4 linked regions of the Homo sapiens genome follow. The protein of the gene in region 3 interacts with the protein of the main gene of each other region in a biochemical or structural test. Each region holds a gene or a part of one and is shown on either strand. Other genes may lie near its edges.

The links.
Region 1: the proteins of RPSA (region 3) and RIOK1 are reported together in a solved structure, tested with the Homo sapiens proteins (one study listed by BioGRID).
Region 2: the proteins of RPSA (region 3) and SLX9 are reported together in a solved structure, tested with the Homo sapiens proteins (one study listed by BioGRID).
Region 4: the proteins of RPSA (region 3) and PEA15 form a complex in vitro, tested with the Homo sapiens proteins (one study listed by BioGRID).

The regions. Positions count from the first base shown.
Region 1 is NC_000006.12:7,399,806-7,406,841, reverse strand, and holds part of RIOK1 (serine/threonine-protein kinase RIO1), read right to left. Parts: intron 5,885-7,036; coding exon 5,792-5,884; intron 4,240-5,791; coding exon 4,127-4,239; intron 4,026-4,126; coding exon 3,945-4,025; intron 2,902-3,944; coding exon 2,815-2,901; intron 2,425-2,814; coding exon 2,287-2,424; intron 1,925-2,286; coding exon 1,821-1,924; intron 1,594-1,820; coding exon 1,487-1,593; intron 1-1,486. UniProt on the Homo sapiens protein: Involved in the final steps of cytoplasmic maturation of the 40S ribosomal subunit. Involved in processing of 18S-E pre-rRNA to the mature 18S rRNA. Required for the recycling of NOB1 and PNO1 from the late 40S precursor.
Region 2 is NC_000021.9:44,935,945-44,943,053, reverse strand, and holds the start of SLX9 (ribosome biogenesis protein SLX9 homolog), read right to left. Parts: upstream 3,026-7,109; 5' UTR 2,997-3,025; coding exon 2,868-2,996; intron 2,753-2,867; exon of another isoform or gene 2,407-2,752; intron 1-2,406. UniProt on the Homo sapiens protein: May be involved in ribosome biogenesis.
Region 3 is NC_000003.12:39,409,688-39,413,046, reverse strand, and holds the end of RPSA (small ribosomal subunit protein uS2), read right to left. Parts: intron 2,294-3,359; coding exon 2,048-2,293; intron 1,994-2,047; exon of another isoform or gene 1,840-1,993; intron 1,399-1,839; coding exon 1,270-1,398; intron 1,152-1,269; coding exon 986-1,151; intron 774-985; coding exon 679-773; 3' UTR 505-678; downstream 1-504.
Region 4 is NC_000001.11:160,208,368-160,215,403, reverse strand, and holds the end of PEA15 (astrocytic phosphoprotein PEA-15), read right to left. Parts: exon of another isoform or gene 6,800-7,036; coding exon of another isoform or gene 6,739-6,799; intron 6,561-6,738; exon of another isoform or gene 6,535-6,560; intron 3,862-6,534; coding exon of another isoform or gene 3,860-3,861; coding exon 3,688-3,859; intron 2,295-3,687; coding exon 2,139-2,294; intron 1,983-2,138; coding exon 1,918-1,982; 3' UTR 32-1,917; downstream 1-31. UniProt on the Homo sapiens protein: Blocks Ras-mediated inhibition of integrin activation and modulates the ERK MAP kinase cascade. Inhibits RPS6KA3 activities by retaining it in the cytoplasm. Inhibits both TNFRSF6- and TNFRSF1A-mediated CASP8 activity and apoptosis.

The sequences.
Region 1 (7,036 bases), on a different chromosome or scaffold from region 3:
AAAAAATACCCAAATTAGCCGGGTGTAGTGGCTCGCACCTGTAGTCCCAGCTACTCAGGGAGGCCAGGGTGGTAGAATTGCTTGAACCCGAAGGCAGAGGTTGCAGTGAGCCAAGATCACGCCACTGCACTCTAGCCTGGTGACAGAGTGAGACCCTGTCTCAAACAAAAAAAGAAAAAGATATCCTGTCACATGCTATAACATGGATGAATCTTGAAGACATCATACTAAGTGAAATAAGCCAGACACAAAAAGACAAATACTATATGATTCCACTTATAAGAGGTACCTAGAGTAGGTGAATTCACAAAGACAGAAAGTAGAATGGTGATTGCCAGGGGATGGGAAGTTGTTACTTAATGGGTACAGAATATCAGTTTGGGATGATGTAACAGGTGTGGAGATAGACAGTGGTGATAGTTTGTACCACAATGTGAATGTACTTAATGCCACTGAACCATACATTCAAATGGTTAAAGCATTAAATTTTATATTATGTCTTTTACCAGAATTCTAAAAAATTCTATATTCAGAAAGGCCTCTGAGGCCGGGCGTCGTGGCTCACACCTGTAATCCCAGCACTTTGGGAGGCTGAGGCAGGTGGGTCACCTGAGGCCAAGATTTCAAGACTAGCCTGGGCAACATGATGAAACCCTGTCTCTACAAAAAATATAAAAATTAGCTAGGTGTGGTGGCGTGTGCCTGTAGTCCTAGCTACTCGGAGACTGAGCTGGGAGGATCACTTGACCCTGAGGGGCAGAGGTTGCAGTGAACCAAGAGTGCGCCACTATGTTCCAGCCTGCGTGACAGAGTGGGATCCTGTCTCAAAAAAGAAAAAAAAAGAAAGAAAGAAAAGAAAAAAGAAAAAGAAAGAAAAGAAAAAAAGAGAAAGGCCCCTGAGAAACAAGGGAAAAGAATTAATGACCAAAAAACTGACAGTTTTCTTGCTAAACTTTCACAAACTTTGACAGTCTATGTAATCTTGCCAGATAATTGAAGTAAAAAGCTTGGATATCAAGTTGACTCAGGAGAAGAAAAAAAAAAAAAAAAGGAAAAAAAAAAAACCCCTGGCTTTACCATTGGCTGTTGTGCTGTATTTTTGATTCTTCATCTGTTAAGTAGGAAGGAAAAGGTCTCAGGAAGCTGTCAAAATGAATAAACTACACTATGCAATCTGGGTCCCTCAGAAGTGTCAAGCAAATGCAATTACTGGTTAGCATCCCAAATCTAAAAATCAAAAATCTGAAATACTCCAAAATCCGAAACTTTTTGAGCACCAACATTATGCTCAAATGAAATGTGAAATGGAGCAGTGAGGATTTTGGATTTTGATATTTCGGATGCTCAACTAGGGTAAGTACAAGGCAGATATTTCAAAACTGGAAAAAATCCAAAATCCAAAACACTTCTGGTCCCAAGCACTTGAGATAAGAGATACTGCACCTGTACTGCTATTTCCTATTCCTCCTTCCTCTCCCCATCTTACCTTTGAGAGATAAGCATCCATGTTCTCATGTGTAATGGATGGATCTGTGACAAATTCAAAGAGCTCCCGCACAGTCATGACAGCAACACTGTGCCTCATAAAGAAATCTGTCAGAAGGAAAAACGTTAATGACAGCTTTTATGAGGAAAAATATTATTATTCCAACTACCTTATAGAGAAACAAGGAGATAAAATTACATACCATCTCCCAGCAAATGGTTTAAGCATCACTGCACCAAACAATTTAGTGAGAAAATTTTACGCCAACAGCTTAACTGAGTACAAAACCAAAACAGACCAATGAGCTGTTTCGAAAATTGCCGTTTCTACTCACCATTGACGTTGGCGCAATCCTTTCTCAAGAACTCCAAGGCATGTGGGTGGTCGTGCTCCACGGACTGAGACACGTCAATGATATACACGCCTCCACCGTGGTACCTATGGGCCAGAGACACAGAAGCTGTGGGATGGTATTACTTTACTATGTTTTTCGTTTAAAATAAATTCTACTCTTAAAAGCAAGGGAAGTAGCTCACAAAATCACCAAGGTAGATAAGATGAGGCAATCTTGACTAACAGATGGAACTGGGAAAATTTCCAAAATCCATTCACTGTTAATGATCCAAGCAGTCAATTCGGTGACTAAGGTCACTGAAAAAAGGAATCCTATCTTATACCATTTGGAAGTCAACAATAAAACTTCAGAAGTTAGTGTGACTTCTTGGATTGGGATTTTGTTTATCATTTTAAAGGACACGAAACAACTGACAGGCAGTTCTTAAGAGACAAAATACACTCACAGCATGTTAAATTCACTGAGATCTGCATGGACAAGTCTGGCATCCTGATACATTCTTCTCATGTACTGAATGACCTGCAGGTACAACTCCCGAGCCTTGGATTCTGATAACTGGACATTTTTCAAGAGTGGTGCAGGCCTTGAATGAAAAGAACTAAGATAAAATGACCAAGAACAAGTTTTCTTGCTTCTTACTATACTGTTACATGCCCTTCTCTTCTACAACTCATCATGTGAGCTGTATGTGGGACAATCTGTCTCAATGCACATAAACCAAGAAGGTACCGGCAAATAGATGCTTTCCCAACACACTGTATAAGACCACCCTCCAACACAGGACTAACTTGCTCCTCATTCTGAAGCATTTTCAGACTTGAAAAGGTAGAATACATTGATAACACTTATTCACTAATATAGTGGGAAAGATTAATAAGTTATTCAAATGGGAAATATTCATATAGTGGATAAACTCAAAGAACTTAAAAATACAGTTCTGAGAATGCAATTATTAGCCCTTCCATGTACTTACATGTCATCTTTACCGATGAAACTCATGACAAGAACATGACTTCTTAGCATTATTGGTTCTGGACATGGTATCTCTGCTGTGTTTAGCCTGTGATATTATAACAAATAAAAGGACAACTGAAAAGTTGAAAAGGCATCTAAATAAATTACAACTGCAGGTCCCAAGATTAATATTGCTGTTAAGAAATAGCACCAAGGCCTCTCAAATGTATTATAATATTTCATAAACTCTAAGATTATTTTAAGTGGCACCATTATGTACCACCGAGAATGATAAAACACTAGCAATTCAACTATTACATCCCATAACCTGTAATACCCAAAGCAATTCCAGAGATGTTAAACTGAAAAAAATGTGCATCTTACAATGGAGGAAATAGAGGAGATAGGTCCACAAGTATCTTTTGTGTTGAATAGCCTGAAAAATGCTTAATAAAAATAGTTGGACTCACACCTAATAGCTTGTTGAACACAAAAGACTTTCAAAACGAGTAGTACTTGCTCAATACTACACTATCCAATGTGTCACCTGTGTACACCATATAAAAAGTTATAAGACATTTTTTAAAACTCCATAATTTTCAGGAAACTTGATCTCAACTAGATGAGGCCTTTACCTGATAAAAAGGTGTTAGTGCAAACAAAGAATATAAAAAAAGTGTCCAAAACTGGACTAAGAAAAGGAAACTATGATAAACAAAGAGTTCACGACCTAACAAGATTAGTCGAAAACTCCAATACCTACGAAAACATGACAGAGCATTATAACCATCTGATTGTGTCACTTTCCTGATTAAAATCCTTTAGCAGTTCCTTATTATCCTCAGTATAAATTCTAAACATTTTCAATGGCTTACAAGGCCTTCCAAATGATCTAGCTTCGTGGAATAAATATGAATTGTGGCAGTATTCTTTTGAAATGGATTCTCAGAATAGAAAACAACAGAATAGGAAACAATCTCTATTTGTCCAGACATGTGTTTCTTCTGCTTACTTCAGCAGACCTAATAGAAATAAAGGCCCTAACAAGTCCCTACATTTGGGCAGAACCACACTGGGATCTGCTGGGAGGAAGGGCTGATGTTCATGTACAGGGCATAGGACAGACATACACACATCCCAGACAGTCACCTGATTAAGTTCCTCATTTCTTTTTCTGCCCAAGTTTTCACCATTTTCCTAGGGTTTCCTTTACAATAGCCATGACGAAATCTTGAATAAGAAAAATGTTTATTATTTCAATCATTCCATTATTATTTTAATGTTTTAGGAAATAGAAATTAAACCAACTGGAGGGAAAAATCTGAACTTACCTGAATTCTCCACTTACATATTTATCCCGATCTTTGAACACCAAAATAGAAGTTTTATAAATTTTGATTGCTCTGCTCTCTCCATTTGCTGTGCTAGCATGGTATACATTAGCCTATATTAAGTCAAAAAAAAAAGAAAATGAAGTTTATGTTAAATAACCACTTTTTCAATCTATTTGATTCTAACCTCAAAAGTCAAGTGAACTGAAATAACATGCATAAGGAATACCACTGTCTTTTGAATATGTGAATTAAAATGTAAAACATTACATCAAAAGGACAGTAAACATAGCTCCAATATACAAATACAGTCACGTGCCACATAACGTTTTAGTTACTGACAGGTGACAGACCGCATATATGAGGTGATTCCGTAAGACTATAACAGGTATTTTTACTGTACTTTTTCTATGTTTAGATAGATAAATATTTACCATTGTCTTACAATTGTTACAGTATTCAGTACAGAAACCTGTTGTACAGATTCGGAACTACCGTATAGCCTGAGAGTGCAGTAGGCTATACTATCTAGGTTTGTATGAGTATGCTCTATAATGTTCTTCGCATAATGACAAATTTGCCTAATGATGCATTTCTCAGAAAGTATTCCCTTCATTAAGCAATGCAAGACTGTACAGTAAAATCCAATTTAAATATAGGGGAGAAGTGGTTTCAAACTTTTTTATATCTCAAGTATATGCAAAATAATTAAAGACATTCTTAAATCCAGTGATTTAGGCAAGGCGTGGAGGCTCATGCCTGTAATAGCAGCACTTTGGGAGGCCAAGGCGGGTGAATCACTTCAGGCCAAAAATTTGAGACCAGCCTGGTCAACATGGCAAAACCCTGCCTCTACTACAAATACAAAAATTAGCTGAGTGTGGTGGTGCACGCCTGTAGTCCCAGCTATTCGGGAGGGTGAGGCAGGAAAATTGCTTGTACCCGAGAGGCAGAGGTTGCAGTGAGCTGAGAACATGCCACCACACTCTAGCCTGGGAGACTGTCTCAAAAAAAAAAAAAAAAAAAGACTCTGTTTAAAAAAAATTTAAAAATCCAGTGATTTATAAGTTGAATTTTACTGAGAATTGCTTCCAGCAGAATGGGTTTTACACTTTTAAATAATTGCTTTAAAAAAAAAACAAAAACAGAAACTATATTGAGCCACAACACTCACATATATTTATTAGCTGGCCCTTTCAAGAGCCTGCAGACCCCTGCCATTATAGCTGAGTAAATCACAGTAAGAGTTTCCTTCAAGCTGGAGTAGTCAATTTTGAGTCAAAAGGATTTCAGAGTCTTCTCTAACAAACAGAAGGCAGTATACCCGTAGGTAAAGAAAAAAATAAGAAAGACTTGCTGACTCATAGAAACATAACCATAAACCCCTGGCCCCATGAGTAATTTATTTTATTAGAACTCAGGCCTGTAATAATCTGACCATCTCACTCACTACTGGGCACAACTAGTTAGACTCAATGATCCAATGCAGCAGCGGTAGTGAAAAGGGCGTAGTTATATGTACAACTTCCTCTCTAACCATGAATATTAATGTGTATGGCTTTGTTTTTCTTTCTTCTTAAAGGCATAATGTAGTTCTAAGTGCCAGTTTCATCTGGTATCTGAAATAAGAAAATTAAATATCCAATCATCCAAAGAAGAGCTCACTTCTTTTCCTGTGCTAATGCAGCCATTTATCTCTGTTATGATTCCTCTAGTCAACATCTTGAATAAAATCATTCTTGTTCTGGGATCCAACACCTAAAAAGAAATGCAAAAATTAAAAAGTTCCAAAAGACGGTACCAAATTTTCCTCATTAAAACCTGTGACAATCAATAAACAGCAGAGCTTAACTGTACGACGCTATCCTGGTTGACTAAATGAGAGTCACTATTTGGTGCTTTTATTCACTCTAATTGTTAATCAGTAAAATGTCAGGTAAAGGCCAAAGGAACCAAAGGCAAAACCAACTAGCAAGTTCATCCAGTCATGGAAATCAAAGGCAACCAAGTTCAAGAGAAACAGAACTCTAGGCTATTAGCTAATAGAAGTATAATGCAAACTACATAAATAGTATTACATTGTTCTAGTCACTACACTGAAAGTAAACAGAATCAGGTGAAATTATCTTAATATATTTTATTTAACTCAAAATATCTAAAACGCTATCATTTCAACCTGTATCAATATAAAAAGTCATCAGTGAGATAATCCTTGTTTTTGACACTAAGTCTCCAAACTCCGGTGTCTTTTGCATTTAAAGCACATCTCAATTCAGACTGGCCACATCTCAAGTGCCCAGTGGCTACCGTCGTGGACAGGCAGCTGTAAATCAGGGGTCAGCACTCTCCGGCCCATGGACCAAATCAGACCACAGCTTGTTTTTCCTTAGCTTGCAAGTTAAGAATGGGTTTTACACTTTTAAATGATTGCTTTGAAAAAAAATCAACAGAAACTATATGTGAGCCACAATGCTCACACATATTTATTAGTTGGCCCTTTCAAGAGTCTGCAGACCCCTGCCATTATAGATTAGTAAATCACGGTAAGCATTTCCTTCAAGCCAGAATAATCAATCTTGAGTAAAATGGATTTCAAAGTCTTCTCTAACAAACAGAAGGCAGTGAATTTAAAGGCTGTTCTTGTTTATCTCTGAAACTAAAGCAGCCAAATATTTGTATGCAATTTCTAAGGATACCAACCAATAACTCCTTGTGGCTCAGGCAGGCCCTCTAGCCCCCATGGGGTGAGACGGTATTATAAACTAGCCAAACTCAACTATACTTTAGGGTCCACCTTCAATGAAGTGGCTGGGGTCACACCACAAACCTAAGGTTAATATAAACAAAACCACCTGGGAAGACTATAGGACTAAAAACCAAATCACGACCATTGCAACTAGAGAAGAATGA
Region 2 (7,109 bases), on a different chromosome or scaffold from region 3:
ACAGAGGTTTCTGAAGGGGGTCAGAATACGCCACCCCAAAACATGTCACTAATTATTTTGAGCTAAAGGCACTTAAAAATATAGCAGGTACCAAGAGGGCATATTAACCCCCTCCCTGTTTTTCCTGAAAGGAGATAAAACCCCCATATGGAAGATGCCCTCCTACACCAGAAGGTAAGTGACATTCTTATCATCAGGGATGGATCAGAGGAGCCAAGAGCACTCTGTACAGACACACCTGGTGAACACAACCCCTCCCCTCCTGCAGCCTCCCCATGTGGTTTAGTTTTCCACAACCACCTCCGTTCAACCTCTCACCCTCTCAAAGAAGCACAAAGTTCTCCCACTTCCTTGTCTTCATTTCCTTATAAGGCTCCCATGTCACATAAAACTTCAATGAATGGGTACGCTTTTCTCCTGTTAATCTGTTTTATGTAATTCTAAATCTCAGGCCCAACCTAAAAACCTTGAAGGTAGAGGTAAAACATGGCCTCCTTCACATTACAGAGGAGACAGGATGCAGATGAGGTAGAAGGCAGCCAGGGCACCAAGAGGTGCCAGGCTGGACTGCAACTCCCCAGGTGCTCTCACCCACAGCACCTGAGGGAGAAGTCCTTGGTCTCCCTCACCCACAGCACCTGAGGGAGAAGTCCTTGGTCTTGGAGGGTTACGTGGCAGAGACAGAAAAGTCGGTACATGGGAAAATATCAGACTCACGGGGGAACAGTGCTGGAGACCAGGGCAGCCTTCAGATGGGCAGGCAGGTGGCTGAGGCAGCACAGGTAGGCTGAGGCCTCACAGGCAAACAGGGACCAGGTGGGGACAAGGGGTGCAGCATGCAGCCTTCCAGATCATGAATGTATGTTGGTATACGGCAGACGACTGCTTTTCCCACTGTACCTGGGACATTCTCCATGGTAGCACTTTATATCTCATTAATGCATATTTTTGGAGCTTAATAAAAAAATGCTGGCACAGGTTTCAATGAGCCAAGACAACTAAAGGCACGCCCCTCTCCTGCTAGTAGAGAGAGATGTCACCTGAGAAGCTGAAGCTGCTCCTGCCCCATCTCTGGTGTCCTGACACGGAGCTCTTGCCCAGGAGCGGTAGGCTGCAAAAAGGAAGAACTCCATAGCTCTGCCAGAAGGGACTCGCCTTGTCTGCAGCTCGTGTGAGGGCTCTCACGCCTAAGGGTGTTGCTGACCAGGAAGGAGCTCTGGGTGGTGACAGATGCAGAGGGCAGGGTGCCCAAGGCTCCTGGGTAGACAGTAAGCCCCTCTGACCCAGGAACAACTCCCAGGAGGTCGCATCCCTGGCAGTCTGGAGGCTGTGCGCATGTTCAAGGACGCACCCTACCAGGAGTGAGCAGAGGGACTCTGTAAGCTACTAGTCCTTGGCTGTGCCTCTGAGGGCAGAAATGAAGGTCAAAAATGTGAACACGCTGAATCTGACAGCCACCTCCAAGCCAGAGGTATCCAGTGGTAAAAGGCAAAAACCCCCTGGCCAAGGAGGCTTTAAGAACAATTGCTGACCAGTGAGGAGCTTAAGCAGATCCAACTAGCCAGGCTAAAAGAGAAAAACAGGAAGAAAAAAAAAAAACCAAGGGGGCACATCAGAGGCTGCACACAGCCAGAAGGGGACAAGGAGAGAGGTCACATAGTTCAGTTCCAGATCAATAAACAAAGTAATCAAGCAGATACTAATCCCTGGTTGCTACAGGACTATCCAAAATGCCCAATTTTCCACAAAAAGTGATACATTCAAAGAAGGCCCACCTGCTCCTACCTGCCAGCATGAGCCAGGCAACAGAAACTGCTTTGAGCAGCCCACATGTAAAGAATTCAGAGTAGGCATTATAAATATTTCTAAGGACTAAAAGAGACCGTGTCTAAAGAACTAAACGAAGGTATAATGACATTCTCACATCAAACAGAAAACATCAGTAAAGAGTATTTTTTAAAATGAGGAGGAACAGGAGAAGAGAAAGAAAGTAAATAAATTCTGGAGTCAAAAAAAATGAAAATTTCACTGGAAAGGTTCAAAAGCACCTCTGGGCTGGCAGAACATCAGTAAACTTGAATTAAGATAGATTATGCCATCTGAAGAAAAGAGAAAAACTGAGTGAACAGCGCCTCAGAGCACTGTGGGACACCATTAAGCACGACGTACATATTTATAATGGAAGTATCCGAAAGAGAGGAGTGACAGAAAGGGGCAGAAAAAAATATTCAAGGAAATAATGGCTGAAGACTTGCCAATGTAACGAAAAACATTAACCTACACACGCAAGAAGCTCAGTGAACACGCAAAATAAATGCAGATACCTACACCAAGACACATCGGTCAAAATATTTAAGGCAAAAGCCAAAAAAAAAAAAAAATCCTGAAAGCAATAATTCCACTCACATGCAGTGTCTAGAATAAAGACAAAAGGTAGATTCGTGCTTGCTTAGGGCTGAGGGGGATGGAGAAACAGGCCAGCCGACTGCTAAAGGGAACGGGGTCTCTCTTCAGTTTGCTCTCCGTTCTTCTCTAACTCTGGGAACGTCCTTTCCTTTCCGGGGAGCTCAGTGCGATTCAGGAACCTCTGGGGTCCGCGTGGCAACCCTGGACCGCAGCGGGAGGTTCCTGGCTCTCTCCCCTCCCCGGGAGCGGCGCGAGTCCGTGTGCCCAGGACGGCAGCGCAGAGCGGAGCCTCGGAGTTTACGACGCTTCGCGAAGCAAGAAGGTCGCGTCTGTAGCGCAGCAAATGCCCGCAGAGCCCGAGGGAAGGCCGGGGTCGCGGAACCCTCCCGGAGGCGGCGCCCCGCAGCTCACCCGCCCTCGGACCCACGCGGCAGCCCCCGGCCAGCGCCTCCCCAGCTCACCTTCCCCGCGGCCGAGGCCGGCGGAGGGGTCGCCTCCGGGGCAGGGGGCGCGGGGCCGGGGGCGGCCTCCCCTTTCGGCCTCACGGCAGCCTGGTGCACTCGGGCGCGCAACCCCCTCACTTTCCCCATCTTCCCGGCGGAGCACGGCAAACGTGCGGAGCGCCTCCCGGAAGCTGGTCCTGCGTTCTCGCCGCCCGGCGGAAACAGGAGCCGCGGCTGCCGGGAGCCCCGCGGCCGCCGGAAGTACCCGGAAGCGGCTCGGGCGGGCGCAGGGTCGCGGGTGTAGGGTGGCGGCGCTCCGCCTTTCACCGACGCACCTGGGAGAAACAGACCGGAGGACGCGGGTGGCGCGGAGCACGAGAAACAACGAGTTTCTGTCTAGATCGTGGGGGACCCAAGCCCGGGGTTGCGTCCAAGGTCGGGGATGGAGAGGACGCGACCCCCGCGGCAGTCGAGATGGCCTTTTTAAAATTCTATATTTGAGAAGGAGTCTCGCGCTGTCGCCCAGGCTGGAGCGCAATGGCGCGAAATCGGCTCATTGCAGCCTCGACGTCCAGGACTCGAGCGATCCTCCCGCCTCAGCCTCTCGAGAAGGTGGGACCACCGGTGGGCACCGCCACGCCCGGCTAATTTTTATTAATGTTTTGCTAGAGCCGGGATCTTGCTGTGTTGTCTGGCTGGTCTTAAACTCCTGGGCTCCAGCGATCCTCCCTCCTCGGCCTCCCAAAGCGCTGGGATTACAGGCATGAGCCACACTGCGCCTGGCCAAGCTAGTGCATTTTAATTGACCTTCACTTCATGTCAATTTATTTTTTACACTATTCCATTTAGTCCTCAGAACAGTTCTTTAGAATTGGGTATTGCTCCGTTTACGTGGGAAACATAGCAGCGAGGTAACGGGCTGGGTCCCGTGCTGGGAACGGGAGCCCTGCTCATCTGACTGCTTGCACCCTGTGCTGTCTATGCTGGGCGTACTGGGGGGCGTTAGGGAAGAGACCACAGGTACGATGCAATGCCTGTCCTCAAGGAGCCCATTGTTCTCATGGGAACACAAAGCTGACACATCGAGAACAAACTATGGAACAGGCTGTGGCTGAGGGCCATGAAGGAAGGCTGCCAAGTCCGGGCCCAGCCAGGTAGCAGCCACACCTCTATCTACCCTGCTCCCCAACACTGGGCACCAGCACTCACCTGCCCAGGACCCACAGTGAAAACCCACCCACAAAAAATGCACTTTGGAGAAGAGTAGCAGGTCCCAGGCAGAGCCAGGGCCACCTCTCAGAAAGGACATCAAGTTTCTCGCCCAGCTGAGAGATGGACAGATGACCGCACAAGCCACTCACAGCCCAAGGTGATGGACTCTAGGATATATTCAAGGCTGAGCAACTGGCTTGAAGTCGTGTCTACTTACATATTCAAAGACCTAGTGAGCATTCACAAGTCATTCTTTTTACCCTCCAACTAGCCGTGTTCTCAACCAGTCTACCTAGGAATGCTGTTGGCTGTGAAAACTCCAGAGGCTGGTATCTTTAGAGTTCCTTCAGGGTGCATTCAGCATCTGAGCCTAGCGACTCTTGAGGTGAAAGTGCTCACGTTTTTTTTTTGGTGAGAGAGTCTCACTCTGTCGCCCAGGCTGGAGTGCAGTGGCGCAGTCTCAAAGTGCTCATCTTTATGTACTTTGGATGCCGGTGAATGCCTATTGTTTCAGCCAGCTGGATCACTTTACCTGTTAACCATTCCAATGTGAGTTTACTTCATGGAATTGTGCCTGTTTTTAAAGAACATATTCTGGCTGGGCGTGGTGGCCCACGCCTGTAATCCCAGCACTTTGGGAGGCTGAGGCAGGCGGATCACCTGAGGTCAGGAGTCTGAGACCAGCCTGACCAACGTGGAGAAACCCCATCTCCACTAAAAATACAAAATTAGCCAGGCGTGGTGGCGCATGCCTGTAATCCCAGCTACTCAGGAGGCTGAGGCAGGAGAATCGCTTGAACCGGGGAGGCAGAGGTTGCAATGACCCAAGATCACACCGTTGCACTCTGGCCTAGGCAACAAGAGCAAAACTCCGTCTCAAAAAAAAAAAATTTATATTCTTTAAAGATCAGCCTCCTCTTCCACTGCCAGCCCAGTGTTTGAGACTGCTATGGTTTGAATGTTGGTCCCCTCTGAAACCCATGTTGAAATGTAATTGCCATCATACTAGTATTAAGATGTGGCACCTTTAAGAGGTGATTAGGCCACAAGGACTCTACCGTCAGGAAAGGGTTAATGTTGTTATCATGGGAGTGGGTTTGTTATCAAAGTATTTTTCATAAAAGGACTAGTTTGCCCCCCTTTTGGCACACTCTTGCCCTCTCTTTGCTGTTCCACCATGGGATGACACAGCAAGAAGGCCCTTGCCAGTTGCTAGCTCTTCTGTCTTGGACTTCCCAGTCTCCAGAACCATGAGCCAGTAAATTTCAGTTCATTATATAAATTACCTAGTCTGTGGTATTCTGTTATAGCAGCACAAAACAGAGTAAGACAGTGACAAAGATACTCACCTGTACAAAGGAGGAAGCTTCAAAAGAAGCCATTCATGTATGGGGTGGGACTGCAGAAGGACCACAGTAGAGAATCCCTCACCAATAAGGAACTGTGTTAATCAGGTAACTAATTAATTAAAAAAAAATTAAGAGACAGGGTCTCACTCTGTTGCCCAAGTTGGAACAGTGGTGCAATCATAGCTCATTGTAATGGTGACCTCCTGGGCTCAAGTGATCCTCCCATCTTAGCCTCCTGAATAGCTGGGAACACAGGCATGTGCCACCACACCTGGCTAATTTTTTGGGTTTTTTTTTTTGCAGAGACACAATCTCCCTATGTTGCCCAGGCTGATCTTGAACTCGGCTCAAGCAGTCGTCCCACTTCAGCCTCCCAAAATGCTGAGATGACAGGCGTGAGCCACTGCCATGTGGCCCCAGATTTTCTTTTTTAAAAAGTCATATACGTACACGATACTGTAGGGGAGGCAAATATCCACCTCCCTCCTCTTAGGTTCCTGGCTGGGCCTGGGAACTAAGTTGAAATCAGATGGATTAACAGGAGAAATGTATACAAATTTAATGTCACTTTGATGTCACACAGGACCCTCCTAAGGAAGCAAAGACCCAAAGAAGTGACGAAACCTATGTGCTTTTGCAGGAGGCTGAACAAAGAGGCAGTTGTGGAAAAGTAAACCGTGTGGGGAGGCTTAAGAACGACAGGAATTACTTTAATTACTTTAATGTCTGTACAGAATTCTGTTGGCTATGACGTGCTTCCCTGTAGAGGAATCTTTCTTCGCCCGGTACAGGGAAGGCATCTTTCACCTGAGCGTTTTTATCTCCTGTCTTCAGGAAGAAAAGGAGAGATCCGATGATGCTCTTGCCTGTGCCATTTTTCAAGTGCCTTAGGTAGAAGTGATTCTTATGTCAAAGTGGCAGAGTGAGCCACCCTTCGATCCCAATGGAAACGTCCTAAAAGGTGTTGACAGTGAACAGTTCCCCTTCCTCCCCTGACGCCAGAGCCTAGTTCTCTGCCCACTTGAAACCATGATTATGGGTTTCCTATCGCAATTCTGTAGACTTTTATACAAAAAGAGTTTTATCTATGAGAAAATATTTTTCAGTGATCCTGTTCTTCACACCAATTAAACCTGACTGTTCCCTGCTCCGCACCTGGCTTCTCTCACGTCATAAAGATCTTACCATTTGCCCCTCATTCCTCCTGGCACTCCATAGCGGCTGCAGAGGACACTGGATGTGACATGGCTCCATCAGTTCCCACATGGCTTGTTCCCTCTCTCCTGCTGTAACTGACATGCTGGCATGCACATTGCCTTATACATACAAACAGAAGCTTTCCAAAGAGAAGTTTCAGGAAATTCACGTGGAATGTTTGGCAGTTGGTGTATATAAAAAGCTCAGGCCTGGCCGGGTGCAGTGGCTTACACCTGTAATCCCAGCACTTTGGGAGGCCGAGGCGGGCAGATCACAATGTCAGGAGATCAAGACTATCCTGGCTAACACGGTGAAACGCTGTCTCTACTAAAAATACAAAAAATTAGCTGGGCGTGGTGGCGGGCGCCTGTAGTCCCAGCTACTCAGGAGGCTGAGGCAGGAGAATGGCATGAACCGGGGAGGCGGAGCTTGCAGTGAGCCGAGATCGCACCACTGCACTCCAGCCTGGGCGATGGAGCGAGACTCTGTCTCAAAAAAAAAA
Region 3 (3,359 bases):
GAAGGAGCCTGAGGCACAAGAATCGCTTGAACCCAGGAGGCAGAGGTTGCAGTGAACTGAGATCACGCCACTGTACTCCAGCCTGGGCAACAGGGAAAGACTGTCTCCCCAACCCCCTCCCCGGCAAAGACAAATATGGAGAACATCACATTTTTAAATACATACATACCTCTCCTCTCCCAGAACCTGTAGGCAAGCTGACAAGAGGGGCAATTAATGTCTCTCAATGTGGGGAAGGACCATCGCCTCTCCAGGGCTTCCAGGAATAGTTAACCTAAGTGACAGGAAGACTCTCAAAAATAAAAACCTAAGCTCTATAGAACTTACCTACGCAAATGGTAATAAAAGCAAGATCATCAGGGCCTCGGAAAAGTATTCCTGAGGTTACCAACTAAGTATGTGTAACCACTTACATCTATTTTCACAGCACACATGTTCTCCACACAGGAAGGAAGCTCAGGGAAATTCTGAAGTGAAAAGCAATATACACTATCTACAGTGGGCTTTAGAAGTACAACTCATGTCGAGACATGTATTTATTATTATGCTTTGATATGCAATCCCAGGTATTCTGATCTGGAGTAAAAAGCAAACTAAATGAAGACAACTTTTAGAAACTGATGTTTATTTTCCATCAACCATTTTTCCATGCTGCTTAAGAGCCTATGCAAGAACAGCTTAAGACCAGTCAGTGGTTGCTCCTACCCATTCAGTGGCCTGAGCAGTGGGAGCTGCAGACCAGTCTTCCGTGGCAGGCTGAGCGCTCCAGTCTTCTGTTAAGAGAATACCAAAAAAAGCCATCAGCTCTGTCCTCAATGTAGTATTTTTCCTTACCCCACTCCCAACAGCAGTCTATCAGATGCTGTAGCACACTGGAATGAAAACCTCTTAAAGCTAGTATAAAAGTCACAGAGATCATTAAAGTTAGAATAAAACTGAGAAGTTGCAAAATATCAGCTTGATTCACCTCTATCCTGATACATACCAGTAGGGAATTGCTGAATAGGCACAGAGGGCACCTGTACACCTTCAGACCAGTCTGCAACCTCAGGCTGAGTAGCAGTGAACTCAGGAGCGGGAGCAGTCCATTCACCCTGAAATTCCTCCTTGGTCACTGCCTTCTCAGCAGCAGCCTGCTCTTCTTTTTCAATCTGGGTTACAAAAAAAAAAGAGGAAAGACTTACAGGGACTGACAAGTTTTGCTTCCTAGAAGCACAGTCCAAGTCGTCCAATTTGCTTATGTAACCACAAGCCTTTGGAGAAGCTTACCTCTTCAGGATCTCTGTAGAAGTACAGATCAGGCATGACCTCCCATGGGTGTTCACGGGAAATGGTGCCACGCATGCGCAGAACTTCCCGAGCCAGCATCCACCACATCAAACCCACTGAGTGAGCTCCCTGCCAAGAGTGGCAGATTATTAAAAAGTGACACTTGGTCAAACCCAAACAGCAAGCACCTTCCTGGCTCTTACATCATCTAGGTACCAAAAGTACAGACATCTCTTAGTTGAAAAGCAATTGTAACAGGGAGCATTATAAATAGGGATTTTCAACCTTGTCTGCACACTGGAATCATAGGGATTGAAAAAAAAATGCCTGGACACTGGCATTTAAAAAAAATATCTGGGCAATTCTTATGCACAACTAGGGTTACAAATCAACCAATCTGAACCACACACAACCCACCTTTTTAGCATCTTATAGTAGAACCCATCAAGTTGGTGTGAAAACAAAGGCCAAGTGCCTGAGGCCTGAGCAAGAAACATGGACAAAGGCAGAAGAACACACTATTTTCCAAATGTTTTCATTTCTCCACAAAGCTGTCATGCAGTAATGTTATACTTGTAGCAAGAATTACTATCAAACTCCACTCATTGGGCCAGAGACCCTTGTGGTGTTAGCGAAAACTTGCCCCTCATGTAGCACACTACCTACACTTGCGAGTTCATCGGCCAGTCAGTAGCCTCAACTCCAAGCTCTAACAATGTGCACAGGAATGTTTTTTCTAGAGCACGCATTCACAAACTCTAGATCCTAAAATCATTACCTTGTTGTTGCATGGGATGGCAATGTCCACATAGCGCAGAGGAGAATCTGTGTTACACAGCGCAATGGTAGGTAGGTTAACATAAGATGCCTCCGTGAGAGGCTGGTGGTCAGCCCTGGGGTCAGTAACCACAAGAAGCCGTGGCTCCCGGAAGGCTGCCTGGATCTGGTTAGTGAAGGTTCCAGGAGTGAAGCGGCCAGCAATTGGAGTGGCTCCAGTGGCAGCAGCAAACTTCAGCACAGCCCTCTTTGAAGAATTTAAAAGTTAGTGGTACTCGATATTCCACAGCAACAATCCTGGCACCCAGTAAGCACTTCTGGGCACTGGCCAACTTAATCACTACTACTCCATGTAAAGCAGGCACATACCCAGCTTTCCTTAACCTCTCTTACTTCTCCAGAGATTTCCTGCATACATTAAAAAAGACAGGCTTGTTTTTCTACTATATATCCCGAGCACCTAGCAACACTACCTGGCCCAATCTAGATGCTCAGTATATTTTTCTCAAGCAAGCAAGAACTGTCACTCAGTTCATTCTACAGCAATAACTAACTGCCTTTTTTCTACTGTGTACCAAACTATGTGGTCCTAGTAACAAGTCAGTTTCAGGAATAACCCTCTGCAAAAACACACATGGGAACCCGTCCTGTCAACATTGAAATAAAGTCTTACTACATAATTTTTAAATCTGTCAAAATAGTTAAGATGAATAAAATCCCTGTTAGAACTCTTAGAATTCAAGAAATCTACTAGTTTTCTCAACAGAAAAATTATTAAAATAGAGCTGTGGCAAAAAAGATTCAAGTTTTACTAACTAGTCATTTCTTAAAAATACAAATTAAGGTATTTTTCATTCAAGTTGGCAGAGGTTCTCTTTGAGACAAGGCCTCACTCTGTCACTCAGGCTGGGATGCAGTGGACAGTCTTGGCTCCCTGCTGCCTCAACCTCCTGTGTTCTAGCAATCTTCCCACCTTAGCCTCAGCTGAGACTACAGGCACGCCAACACCACACCCAGCTCGTTTTTGTTAATTTTGGTAGAGACGGAGTTTTGCCACGTTGCCCACCCTGGTCTCGAACTTCTGGGCTCAAGCAAGCCACCAGCCTCAGCCTCACAAAGTACCCCATATTACAAAAGCATGAGCCACCCATGACTGGCTTTTTTAAGAAACAGGATCTCACTCTGTGCCCCAGGCTTGGAGTGCAGTGGCAAAATCATAACTTACTGCAGCCCCCAGCTCCTGGACTTGAGGGATCTCCTGGCTCAGACTCCCAATTAACGGGAACTATGGGTGCATGCCGTCATGACTGGCT
Region 4 (7,036 bases), on a different chromosome or scaffold from region 3:
GGTCACTCACAGAAATTTTAAAATCAGTTAGTTGCAATACAATCAATCACCTTTATTCCGGGTTAGAACAAGGCCGTGCACACTGCAGACAGAAGAGCACAAGATAGGGGCAATCTCACAGCAATATAAGGAGTGGGTGGGCAGGTTAGTCTTTTTAGATTATTTTGCCTTACAGAGAAACTACTAGACTCTGCTGAAAAGAACCCTGTCTCTCTTCTCCCATTTCTTCCATAAGAAAGGCTCCTTATTCTCTCTCTCACTCTAATGTAACATATCCCAAATGGAAGGACAGTTCATGCTCATTCCCCCCACCCAATTCTACAAGTATCTCTCTCTTCTTAAGGGAGAAGCCAGACAGGGAAAGGGAGACTTGGGAAGGTCCTTTAAGGCAAAACTGTGGAGTCCTAGAGGTGTGTGTGTTAAGGCAGGTGTCTGCAGCAGTGGCCAGAGGGGCAGGGCACGCTAGGCTGGGCTAGGAGTTAAGAGTACTGTCTAACCAGTCTGGCTTCTTCCTTCTTCCAGCAGCCAGCCCTCCCCTCCCATTAAAGTTTTACTCCCACATCCTAAAAGCTCCTAACTTGAACTTTGTCTAAATAGTCTCTGAGACTGCATGTGAATTTAATGTTTTTTGAAAAAGCCTTCTTTTTTGTTTGGACTATGTAGCAATTTGATTCTGCCACTCCCTTCACTGTGGCATTCCCCTCCCACCCCCGCTCTGGCCTAGACAATAAGTTAATGCTAGACACCACAAAAAAGGGCAGACATGGCAGTGCAGTTTTAATATACATATATGTAGAATATATATGTACACACAGTTAGCACGGTCAGGGTGGGGAGGGGCATCTTGGGGTAGGCAGGAGGCTGGGGTCACTCACTGTACTGTAGTGATGTGGCTAGGAGGTGTTCACAAGCCCAGGGGGCCAGGATATCTAGTAAAGAAGGGTTTCCTAAGTAAGTCCCTTCCGGGATTGAATTGGGGTGGGGATCGGTGCAAAGGAAAACACTGTAGTTAACTTCTTTCTGGCTTGGGATGTTCTTCACCAAGGAGAGAGGGAAGGTTGCCTACAATAACCAAGTTGGGACCCTATAGATGGTGGTGTCAGGATTCGTGTTAAAACCTAAGGGTCTCATTCTTCAACCTCCCTAGGTTTAGAGTGCAACAGTCTGAGTAGGAACAACTGAGTGGAAGAGGGGGCTCCCCTCTCTCTGCCCTCATCCCCATCTCAGGCTCAGTGGTACATGTTCCCAGCACAGTCTCTCCAGAGTACAGGTGGGTGGGGGCATCTAACGCTGGCTGCTCCATGGGGTTTGATCTTAGGGACCAGGAAAGGATCCCTGGCTCATACCTATGCTAGGCCCATGAGAGACAAAAAGGGACCTGCTGGTACTCAGGAAACAGTCCAGCACAGGAGTACAAACATGGAACTCTGGCTTTTCTTTGCCCCTTCCAGGTGGGGGTTGAGTGGTCTCTTTGCCTTCCGTCCCCACTGCTTTTCCCTGGATCCACCTACCTCTCCCATACCTTACCCCTATGTCAGCTCCTCAATGTAGGAAAATGCAGGTCCTTTCTGCTTCCACACTTTAAAGATATGGGGGGAGTGGAGGAAAGGGAAGTAGGAGGAATGTGCTGATTTCTATTTGCATAGAAATAGCCCCCACCTCCTCCTAAAGTGGGGAAACTCAGCCCCCTCCCCTAGCCCCTGACCCCCATCCCCTTAAGAAGAGGAACTAGATGAGCTAGACATATAGACAAACAGCCAGAGCGTGCGCACACGCACACACACGCGCACAGTAAGGGGGTTAGGACCAGGTTAGTAAGTGGGTAGATGGTGGGTTGCCCTTGCCCCCTCTCCTGGAGGATGGGGGAAGGGAGTGGTCTGATGAAGGTCCAACCTTCCTCCTCTTCCTCCCCCTTGCTCAGGCCTTCTTCGGTGGGGGAGCCAATTTGATGATCTCTTCCTCAGAGGGCTGCCGGATAATGTCTGGGGGCAAAAAGGTATGTGTCCAGGGACAGCAGTGTGGGAGATGCCAGGCAGGCCCATTGGGCATCTGCCTCCACTCTCCCAAAACTCAAGTACTCCAAGGATAGTCAACGGGACGAGGCAGAGGTGCAGCTAGTTAAAGGAGTGGCCGCTTACCTTTGTACTTCTTGGCACTGGGGATACGGGTTAGCTTGGTGTCCAGCTCATCCTCCTCAGAGATCTTCAGCACACGGGTTCTGTAGTCAACCACCATAGTGAGTAGGTCAGGACGGCGGGAGATCTCAAAGATGTGCTCAATGTAGGAGAGGTTGTCTGGAGGAAGGCAGGAGATAGGGTCAGAGCTAGGCTGTAGAGGTCAGCTTCCCCTACTCCACCAGACTAGTGACCTGGAACCAAAGCTGAGTTGCTGACATTGGTTATGGGAGGGTACAACACTGGAGGAAGAGGGGCTACTAATCCAGGAGAAGAAAGCTAAGGTACCCAAACAACAATACAGAGGACTGTTCGCAGGAAGGGCAGATAGTTGGTCAGTGAAGTTTCTAGATTGTGGTTAGAATGAGGGGTTTAGCTTAGATACTAGCTCCCATATGTTGTGGGGAGGGGACAAAAGAAAAATCAACTTGACTTCCAGATACCCCACCCCCACCCCCATCCTTTTCCACTTTCCATCCAAGTAAGTATCAGAATTTGCTGACAGCACATGTAGGACCAGCAGGGTGGAATCTCTAGGCAACCCAGGAGAGATTCTGGGCCTGGTGAGAAAGGTTATTCTAAATGAGAGAAGGTATGGACACCACCAGAAGGACGATGTCCATGGCTTGGCCAATTCCAGGAGATTATAGATGCCCTTAGACCTTCTTCCCTGGCTCCTCCCCTCTGACTGTTGCCATACAGTCTAACTGTAACACGTCCTCCTTTATACGTTCTCCCTGCCAGCCACACAGCAGTCAGAATAGTATATCTGAAGGGCCCTGAGTTCACTCACCTCACCTATCCAATACCCAGGCTCTCTACAACACAGTCTTACCTTACCTTCCCAGCCATTTCTAAACACCCTACATCCTAGTCAAGCCAAGCAGGACTGATTGCATTTCCAAACACACTAGATACTCTGTGACAGTGTTCCTCTGCCTGGCATGCCCTCCTTTGGATCTTGCCTTAGAAATCCCACTCACCTTTCAGGGCCATCTTAAACACCAATTCTTCCCTAAAGCCTCCAGCTGTGAGGGATTACTCTAATCCATAGATCCCACTCCCCAAGCAGTAGTCTCTCAAAGTGGATAAGAAAATGATAGAACTTGTAGTTTTAAATTTTACCAGTTTTTAAAAAATGCTTAACAAAGATTAGTATTACTATTTACCAGTTAGATTACACTTCGAGTTCTCCCCTCATTCAGGTATTCTTCCATTTTTATTGTCTAGAATTCTTCCCAATTTTTGCCACTTAAAATTTTACTATTTTTAGATTGTTTTTATGTTCTGTTGTATATGTGATAATAGCACAGGAGTATCTGAATAACATTTTTTACCGATGAGGGGCACAGTGAAAAATGTCTAAGGCCCCCATACTCTTAGAGCACCTCTCTTCTGCCTTGCTATAGAGGGGTACACATTGTGGATGTAAAAGCTTTGAGCTCATCTCTATTTGCTGAATGAACTGAGCCTGAATGACTGATGACAGGACCCCTGTGCTCCCCTCCCCCACCTTTGTCCAGCTTGTTGTGGCTCTCCAGGAAGCTAAACCAGGCACTGCCAGTAGTGATCTCCTCACTCTTTTCGCTGGGGATGTCTTCCTTGCAGGCCGACTTGAGCTGTTCTAGATCTTCAAGGGTGATGTTGTTGGTCAGGTCTTGCAGGAGGGTCCCGTACTCAGCCATGACTGGGGTTGGGAGGCGACAAAGGGATAGGAGTTGAGCTTAAGGTATGGAGTCTGGTTTACTCACTGGCACTACCCTCCTACTCCCCACTCTGCCCTACCAGGCATGTGCCTGGAACATGGAGGCTGGAGGTGGCTAGGGCTGGAGGGAGAAAAGGAAGACCTAGGGGAGGCAGTCAGGGTAGACGGGAAGCTAGGAGCCAGGCTGGAGCCTAGAGTGACAAGTCATACCTCCTTCCCCCCACCATCTTTTTCTTCTGTTTTCCCCCTCTAACAGTAACCCTGGCAACAGTTCCCCTGACTGAGGAGGCGGTTACCATAGCAACCTGCTCCCGACTTTCTCACCCGCTCTCTCCAAGTCCCCCCTCAGAATCGCCCCACCCACTTCCAACCCCTCCCCATGTCAGGGAAAAAAAACTCCAAAACAACCAGGGCGAGGCTTGCTGTGGCAGTGAGAAGCTGAGAAAGAGCTGGAGGGTCTGGTAGGAACTCATGTGTTCTAGCTTCCCCATTCTGCCTCAAAGGCAAAGGGGTCCCTCACTTCAACTCCCCACCACCCCACTAATGACTCATTTTGGATAGATGCCTAGTTGCTTGGTCTGATGGTTCCTTGGCCCCACCATGCTAGCCTTGTATTCAGTCATTAGGGTTCGAGGTGGGGGAAGCAATGGACCACCCCCACCTTTGTGGAGCCCATTTTCTCCTTTGATGGTTACCAGGCCCCCACTCAGCTCTCTCTCCTACCCTTTGTGCTGTGCCTGCAGCCCCCGTGCCCAAGAATACCAAGCAACTGGCTCTGGCCCCCTGCCCAGTTCCCAGGCTGGCTGGGTGGTGGGGGGAGGGGACTTTAGATGCGGCTTTGGGAGAATGGCAAAAGGGGACTGCCCCCCCTTCTCGTATCGTATCAACATCCTACTGGCACTACCTTCAGCATGGTCTGATGAGATCAGCAAGGCCAGATCTCACCTAGGCTTTCACCCTATCCCTCTTTCATGATCCTTAGGTGAGAAGTAGAGAACATTCAAGGCCTTCCTTCCACTAAGATAGGAACTGTGGCTAAGACAGAAGAAAGAAGGTCAGATGTTTGAATGGACTTTCTGGATTTGATAAAATGTGACACTAGTGGTAAGCTCAAAAATGGAACTTATTTCCACAATGAGTATCTATTTCCTTTTAGTCAGAAAAGTAAAGCATGTTTTAAAAAGTAAATTGTATCATAAACACTCTGTATGCGACTAGACCAAGGGGTGGGCAAGCAGCAAGATGACCTTGTCCCTGACGGAGGCTGCCTGCAAATCACCCCAGCATTAGGCTGGGAATGTGGCAGATCAAAGGGGCTTGGTTGACACATTCACATTTTCCTTCTTGCTCTACTGCAGGGGAACTGAGATTGGCATGGTGGTCACAAAATAAGAGATACAGACCCAGAAGTCCCCATTCCCAGCCCCCTACCTGGACCAGAATAAACAAGCCTCCCTTGGTGGCAGGCACCATGACACAGGCAGACAATGAGCCAGACAGGAGGGCTACCATGACCCCCGCAAGAAACAGGCAGTCATAGGCATGCTCAGTTGCACACCCAGGTGCAACCAGACAGAAGGGCCCAGCAGTGGCCCTGCCAGGCCGGGCCAGGAACAATGCTCTCTGACTGTCAGCACCAGGAACTGTCTCTGCCTTGAAATCTAGGTCACAGCAGCAAGCTCTGGAGCCCAACCCCCCTCACTTCACTGATAATCCAAGGACAGAAGGAGGGGGGTACGGGTGAGGGGGATGATGGGGAGGGGACTAGAGATGGAGATAAGAATGAGTAGGGGGGCATGAGTACAACTGGAAGGGAAAGCGCAGCAGGAGACAAGAAGACCCTGCCCCAGTGGAGGAAACTCTGGGGCCAAGCCCTCAGCTGGAAAAGGGGGCAGGATTGGGGGTTATACTTCCCTGCTTTCATATGGAAGGAGAGTTTGTAAATATTACAGATCCTGCGGGAGGAAAGAGTGCATCTGTGTGTGTGTCTGTGTGTGTGTGTGTGTGTGTGTGTCGGGAGGAGTTCAGATTTAGGGCTTTGAATCTAAAACAGATCTACAGAGGAGGTAGGCGGGAAGAGATTAATGTGTGTAACACACTCACCCACAAAGACTTGGGGGCAGTGGGTAGGAGCTTTCTAAGAGAGTGAAAGATACAAGGAGGCCCCTAAGAGAGATGGGGGTAGGAATGTTAAAGTGGCAGAGGAGAAATGTGTGTGTGCTCGGATCTTATGGATGCTAATCCCCGGGTTGTGGGCACAGCTCTGGAGGAGGCAGTGGCTGGGTATCTGTGGGTGTGTTTGGATGTTCTGGTAATGGAGGTGTATGTGCCAGCACTGGATATATGGCTGTGGGTGCACTGGCTGTGAGTATCTGTCATGTGTGTGTTTGTATGTGTCTAAACCAGCCAAGAGCATGTGTAAGAAGGCATATAACCACAGGCTCACATCCAGAGGGGTGAGGGGAGCCTACAGAATGGAGAAAGAGAGCTGGAGTTGGGAGACAGAAAGAGACTAAGGCTGCAAATGAGGCATGGGGGGCGAGGGGGAGGAGAGCATACAGTCCACAACTATAGAAGGCTGTAGCCTCATCTCATCTGTTACTATAGCAACCTCAGTTCTGGGTGCCCCCCACCCCCAGTCGTTAGGATGACACCACTAGATGGGAGGAGTGTAGGGAATGGTGAGTAAGAAGGGACAGAAAGGATAGGAATAAGGCCCCCTGACGGTACAAGGAAAGGCAGCCCAGTTGCCTCCCTTCTTGGAGAGATCCATTTGCCTAGGCCTTAGTATGGCAGAAGAAGCAAAGGGAGTGTTGTTTAGGGGAACTGCTCTCAATTCTCACTGATCAACAGTTGTACCTGGGCTGGTCTGGCCTGGCCATGGTGGGGCTTGGCAGAGCTTGTTTCCTTCATCCTCCATGTCACTTTCCTCACCAGAGATTCAGATTTCCTTAGGGCTCGTGGAGAAATCTGCTCTCTGGGCTCTGAAAAATCCTCCTGATTTCTGGAGCAGTGCAGAGAGCTGCTCAGGGATCACCAGGCAGTCTGGGCGGAGGCCATTCTTGGGACAGGATACCAGGGCAGGAATCAGGAACCGGAGCCCCGGCTGCCAGGAAGTCAGTCCTCTTCCCTCCCAGCTTTCTGTGCTAGGCTCACC